2 linked regions of the Homo sapiens genome follow. The protein of the gene in region 1 interacts with the protein of each later gene in a biochemical or structural test. Each region holds a gene or a part of one and is shown on either strand. Other genes may lie near its edges.

Region 1 (3,006 bases):
CCTCAGCCTCCCAAGTAGCTGGACTACAGCACCTGCCACCACACCCGGCTAATTTAGTGTATTTTTAGTAGAGATGGAGTTTCACCATGTTGGCCAGGCTGGTCTCGAACTCCTGACTTCAGCCAATCCACCCACCTTGGCCTCCCAATGTGCTGGGACCACAGGTGTGAGCCACCGTGCACAGCCACAAGGCCATGATTTTCTTTTAAAGGATGCTTGTTTTTGCAAAAGATTTTAGAACCAACTGTTACTAATGCTTTTGATGTTGATACTGTTGGGTGCGTGAGTCTGTACTGTTTGAAAAACGTTATGTCTTGATGAGTGACTAAGAGCACAGGCTTTAGAAATACACAGACTGGTTTCAAATATTGGGGCTGGTCCTCACCTGCTGATGTGGCCTTAGGTGAGTTTCTTACCCACCCTGAGCCTCCGTTCCCTCATATGTAAAATGGGCATAATGACCGGTGGCCTTTCAGGGTTGCCCACATGAAGGGAGATAGTAGGCATGAAATGTGCCTGGCATAGACAGGTACCTGGCAGTTGGTACATGTCTCAGTGGAGGGTATGTATATTTCAGAATTCTGTAACCTTTTAGTCTCAGTAAATCATGTTTTGAACACGAATAGATTCTGGCCACCACCAGCACCCCCCACCCCCAAAAAAAGGATATTGTTATATCTTTACAAAGACATAAATTTTTCTGCCAAATTTTTTTAGGCTCTTAGAGGAGGGGCCAGGGAGGTAGGATTTATGACAAGTTAAAAAAAGGCCTTTTTAGCAGGGTGTGGTGGCTCACACTTGTAACCCCAGCATTTTGGGAGACTGCAGCGGGTGGATCACTCAAGGCCAGGAGTTCGAGACCAGTCTGACCAGCATGGTGAAACCCCGTCTCTACTAAAAATACAAAAATTAGCCGGGTGTGATGGCATGCGCCTGTAATTCCAGCTACTTGGGAAGCTGAGGCAGGAGAATCACTTGAACCTGGGAGGCGGAGGCTACAGTAAGCCGAGATCTCGCCACTCTACTCCAGCCTGGGTGACAGAGCGAGACTCGGTCTCAAAAAAAAGGCCTTTGGTTTAACAGCCTTCTTCATTTTCACCATTAGAACACTTAACACTATAACATAACTAACCAGGAGTAAGAGTTGGGGCCGAGAGGAGAGTGCAGTCTGGACATTTGAGGTGCTTGCTCTAAAGTAGGTTATGGAGCTGAGCTGACTTCAGGAAAAGCCAACTGCTCCAGGTTCTCTCACTGGGGTTCAGAGAGTGGAGTGGCCTGCCAGAGCTCCAGGTAGCTGTGGATGCGGGGAGATGAACAGCCAGCAGAGCTAGGCAAACATGAAGATGTAAAACCAGGTTAAAATGGCAACTTTTCAGCCAAGGACATGATAGATGCATGTCGTGTCCCCAGGGCTGCACCCAGGAGAGGCCTGTGTCCTCCTGCATTGATGGGGCTGCATCTTCAGGCATTAGAAACTTGAAGGCCTTTCCTTGTTAGTTCCAAGTTGTACTGCTAGCACACAGAGCAGAGGCAGGGAGGGAGTGGCATTTACAGGCCGTCCTTGAACGGCTGAGTGGGAGCTGCCCGGGTGATGCTGTGAGGCAGGGCCTTCCTGTGCTCCCTGAACCTCCAGCGTGAACAAGGAGTGAATGCTGCAGAGCAGCTCCATGATGGGCCCAGGTAGCAAAGGGAGGAGCTCACAAGGCCTGTCTTGGTGATGTGGGCCTGGGGTATTTTAACTCTGGAAGTTTCTGTTTTGCTTTATCTAAATTGAAAGGATGGTTTTGCCTTTCAGCCTTTAGAAGAAGCCACACTCTCTGAATTAAAAACTGTCCTCAAGAGCTTCCTAAGTCAAGGCCAAGTATTGAAATTGGAGGCTAAGGTAGGTTTTAAATTATTTATGGTACGTTTTCTCGGGTTATTTTAAGCTTAAAATGGCTACAGAAAGTACTAGTGAAATATTAGATCTAACTCTATACTAATTTTTCTGTAGTTAAAATTTTGTATTTATTTTAAATTTAAATGATTATCTGACTGTGCAGTTTTACTTTTGCCTTTTTCTAGGTGTAATTATAACCTCTTACATTTGTGCAACACATTTAGCCTTTCAAAACACTTTTTTGTGTGTCCCATTTGATTAGCGCGTTTTCACATTTCCAGTCTTACTTCTTTTGTAGACTGATCCGTCAATCTTGGGTGGAATGATTGTGCGCATTGGCGAGAAATATGTTGACATGTCTGTCAAGACCAAGATTCAGAAGCTGGGCAGGGCTATGCGGGAGATTGTCTAAAAGTGTTGGTTTTCTGCCATCAGTGAAAATTCTTAAACTTGGAGCAACAATAAAAAGCTTCCAGAACAGATCATATTATGTTCACTGTCTTTTAAACTGGAATGTAGAAGGCTTTATTTTTATGTCCTTTTTTGGTATCCCCTGAGTATAAAGGCCAAAAAGCCCTTTTGGCCTAGAGAATTTGGTTTGAGTAGATTATGTTTAGGAATTAATTGGTTAGACACAGCACCTAACACATGGTCACTCAGCAAAGTCTATCTGGTCCTGCCTGCCAAAATCCCGTGTCTTTAAGGGTTTGTTCAGAGTTCCTGGTCCCTACTAGATCATCGGATCTGTGTTTGATCCATAGCCCTCCAGGGAGGCCTCTTGCCCTTGATCCTAACATGAACACACCTAGTTGTAGGCTGCTCTGTAGCTTTCAAGGCCATTTCATGTACATCTGAAGCTGCATGACAGCCTTGTCACACGGGTGGGAGAGACATCACCCCACTTTACAAATGAGGAAAGAGATTGAGGGGCCCTAGAGATGTGCTCAGAGTCACCTGTCTGGACAGCTGGTGTCAGGCCCTACAGCCCATGTTTTTACCACTGTATAACTAACACCATGCGCCGACACGTTGCTGGAGCAAACGGGCAAAAGTTACCTTAGGTAGGTCCCCTGCCCCTTCCCGCTTTGTCCCTAAGATGCTCCCAATTCACCTTTTAACCAAAACCA
Region 2 (3,654 bases), on another chromosome or scaffold:
ATTTCAACCACTACAGTCTGGTTTTTGGCCCTATCGCTCCACTGAAACTTTTTTATTTTTTCGAGACAGAGTTTCACTCTTGTTGCCCAGGCTGGAGTTCTGCGGTGTGATCTCAGCTCACTGCAACCTCTGCCTCCTGGGTTCAAGCGATTCTCGTGCCTCAGCCTCCCGAGTAGCTGGGATTACAGGCATGCACCACCACGCCTGGCTAATTTTTGTATTTTAGTAGAGATGGGGTTTCACCATGTTGGGTCAGGCTGGTCACGAACTCAGGTGATCCACCCGCCTTGGCCTCCCAAAGTGCTGGGATTACAGGTGTGAGCCACCAAGCCTGGCCTGAAACTTCTTTTACCAAGGTAAATGGTGACCCATTGGTATCCAAATTCACTCAGCCTTTTCTCATTCACTGGACGCTCTTCCTCCTTTTTTATTATTAGAAGTTTTCCCCAAACTTCTTTATTTTTAACCTTGTCTTTACACTACAATACTATTGCTTTTTGATATTATTTTACAGAAATAGAAAAATGGTTACTTAATATTTTTGGTTGAATTGGCATCCTTTTTTCTTAAAAAGAAATCCTCATGTGTGTACAAATAAGAAAAATGAAAACAGAATTGTTAACTGCCAGCTAGTACAGACACTCTGAGCTGGAATCCTGCTCTCTCTGTTGGAAAGTGAGGTGAGCTGAGCCTTCCTCTTGAAAATAATCAGCAGGCCCCAAAAGAAGGAACTTTCTCACTGTGTTGTTCACTTTTTAACCTTTCCAATGTTAGCCTCCTCGTACCCTCCAAAATGACCTTAGGTACCTGTCAGAGCCTTGGGAACCCTGGAACTGCTCACTCTGCTGATGTGTCCACATGTCACCCAGACTTTCCCTTGAGCTCAGATTTGCATTTCTGACTGCATGCTGCAAATGGTACTGATTACATGTAAGCTGCTTGCCAGTCCTGCTTCCTATCTGCTTCCTTTTTGAGAGTCTCATTTTTGTGACTGAATTCACTGGTGACTCATTTGTCCAGACCAAACTTTTTATTATTTTAGACTTAGCTCTGAACCTCACTTCCTTTCAGCAGATATTGAGCACCTCCTATATATCAGACCATGCATGGCCCATGTGTTCAAATCTCAGTTCCTCCGTGATATTTCTTGGGCCCCAGACACCATATATAGTTCGCTCGATGCTCGTGTGACCTCTTGTCCGTGTCCCGGGCTAGCTGACCTGCCCTGCTCTGTTGTTAACTGACATGCTGCTGCTCCAGTGGATAGCCACTCGGGTGTAGATGATGCTGAATTCTTTGTATCCCGGTGCTTTATTGCTGGGCTTATTTTACTTAATAAGGGATGAGTGGGGCCCACTGGGGGAACTTGTCATTTAACAGAAAAGTTACAGTGCTCAAAGAAATCTTATTCACAGTTAAACAAAAAGCAAGACTGATTTTTGGTTATCGTTTTGCTTTTTAATATATTTATTAGATGTGATAGTTGTATAGGTAATATAGTGAATATATTCTCCTTAAAGCAGCAGGTCCTGAGTATGTGGAGTACAATGTGAACATTCCCCCTTATTTTTCCCTGTGCTTTCTCTTCCCCATCCTGATTTGCAGGCTTAGTTTGTATCCTGCCAGATCATTCTGTGTGCAGGATAGATACTTTTTTCAGCATAAGTGTGTTCATACCATGAATTTTTTCACTTAACATGGCTTTTATATCAGTATACAGAATATACTTAGTAGTTACATTAAACTATTAAAAATGTGCTGCACTAAACATTCTTGCACCTGTGTGTGACTAGTTCTCTGGAATAAATACCTAGAATTGCTTGACAAAGGTCATGTGCCTTTAATTTAATAGATATTGCTAAGTTGTCCCTACAAGGGGCTTTACTAATTTATATTCTCAGCAGCACTATGTGAGGGGGGATCCTTCTCCTTGTCTGTATTGGATTTATCTATCAGGCTTTGAATTCTTGCTAACCTGATGGGTGAGAAATTATACTGTGTATTAAAATGGAGTTTTTTTTTTGTTTTTTTTTTTTTTTTTTTTTGAGATTGAGTCTCACTCTGTTGCCTATGCTGGAATGCAGTGGTGAGATCTCATCTCACTGCAACCTCCGCCTCCTGGGTTCAAGTGATTCTCCTGCTTCAGCCTCCCGAGTGGCTGGGATTACAGGTGCTCACCATCATACCCAGCCAATTATTGTATTTTTAGTAGAGATCGGGTTTCACCATGTTTGCCAGGCTGGTCTCAAACACCTGACCTTAAGTAATCTGCCCGCTTCAGCCTCCCAAAGTGTTGGGATTACAGATGTGAGCCATCGTGCCCAGCCTATTTTTGAGAATATTTTAATTAATCTTTTAAAAAAACTTTAAATTTATTTTACAAGGTCTTGCTCTTTTGCCCAGGCTAGAGTGCAGTTGTGCAATCATGGCTCACTGCAGCCTCCATCTCCCAGGCTCAAGTGATCCTCCTGCCTCAGCCCCTTGAGTAACTGGGACTATAGGTGCACATCACCAGGCCTGGCTAAGGTTTTAAATTTTTAGTAGAGACAAGGTCTCATTATCTTTCCCAGGCTGGTCTCGAAGTCCTGAGCTCGCTGTGTTTCCCTGGCTGGTCTCTATCCTCCCGCTTTGGCCTCCCAAAGTGCTGGGATTACAGGACTGAGCCACGTGCCTGGCCTAATTAATCTTCTGAGCTTCTGATTTGTTCAAAGCTCCTATTTACTGGATAGGTATTCAGCCTAGGAGTTTCTAGTCTCAGATTCACACAGAAGCTCTTTCCTAACATCGCTGTTCCTATGCATTACAGTTGATCTTGCCACTATATTATAAATCATTTGTGTCATAATGAAATGAAGATGCTAACTTGGAAAACAGCAGCCAAATGACTTCAGCTGTTTTGAAGAATATTCCATGGCCATCACCCCAGGATTTTGGTGGCTGGCTTTCTTAGCTGGCTGCCTAAATGTCCTTTGTTGATGATACTGCATTTCTTTTTCTGGTTAATTTTTCTTATTTATTATCAGAACTCAAGAAGATACGTTGTCCCTTTTTAGTAAATTAATACTTGGAAACTTGAATTTATGTAGTTGGAAGATTATTACTTGATCTTTTGAGAAATCAGTCTGCTCTAATTATAAAATATTTAAGAACTACAATGAATCCTATATAACGAAAAGGCTTATAAATTTTTTTCCTTTTAGGTAGTCTGTAGAGAATGCCAAATGAGGGAATCCCCCACTCAAGTCAAACTCAGGAGCAAGACTGTTTACAGAGTCAACCTGTCAGTAATAATGAAGAAATGGCAATCAAGCAAGAAAGTGGTGGTGATGGGGAGGTGGAGGAGTACCTCTCCTTTCGTTCTGTGGGTGACGGGCTGTCCACCTCTGCTGTGGGGTGCGCATCAGCAGCTCCGAGGAGAGGGCCAGCCCTGCTGCACATCGACCGACATCAGATCCAGGCAGTAGAGCCTAGCGCCCAGGCCCTTGAGCTGCAGGGTTTGGGTGTGGACGTCTATGACCAGGACGTGCTGGAACAGGGAGTGCTTCAGCAGGTGGACAATGCCATCCATGAGGCCAGCCGTGCCTCCCAGCTCGTTGACGTGGAGAAGGAGTATCGGTCGGTCCTGGATGACCTCACGTGAGTGCAGCCCATCTT

What was found. Proteins that work in one complex are often made in the same cells at the same time.
Region 2: the proteins of ATP5PO (region 1) and ERCC6 form a complex in vitro, tested with the Homo sapiens proteins (one large-scale study listed by BioGRID).

The regions. Positions count from the first base shown.
Region 1 is NC_000021.9:33,902,811-33,905,816, reverse strand, and holds the end of ATP5PO (ATP synthase peripheral stalk subunit OSCP, mitochondrial precursor), read left to right. Parts: intron 1-1,795; coding exon 1,796-1,882; intron 1,883-2,177; coding exon 2,178-2,291; 3' UTR 2,292-2,364; downstream 2,365-3,006. UniProt on the Homo sapiens protein: Subunit OSCP, of the mitochondrial membrane ATP synthase complex (F(1)F(0) ATP synthase or Complex V) that produces ATP from ADP in the presence of a proton gradient across the membrane which is generated by electron transport complexes of the respiratory chain.
Region 2 is NC_000010.11:49,532,525-49,536,178, reverse strand, and holds part of ERCC6 (DNA excision repair protein ERCC-6), read left to right. Parts: intron 1-3,200; 5' UTR 3,201-3,214; coding exon 3,215-3,636; intron 3,637-3,654. UniProt on the Homo sapiens protein: Involved in repair of DNA damage following UV irradiation, acting either in the absence of ERCC6 or synergistically with ERCC6. Involved in the regulation of gene expression.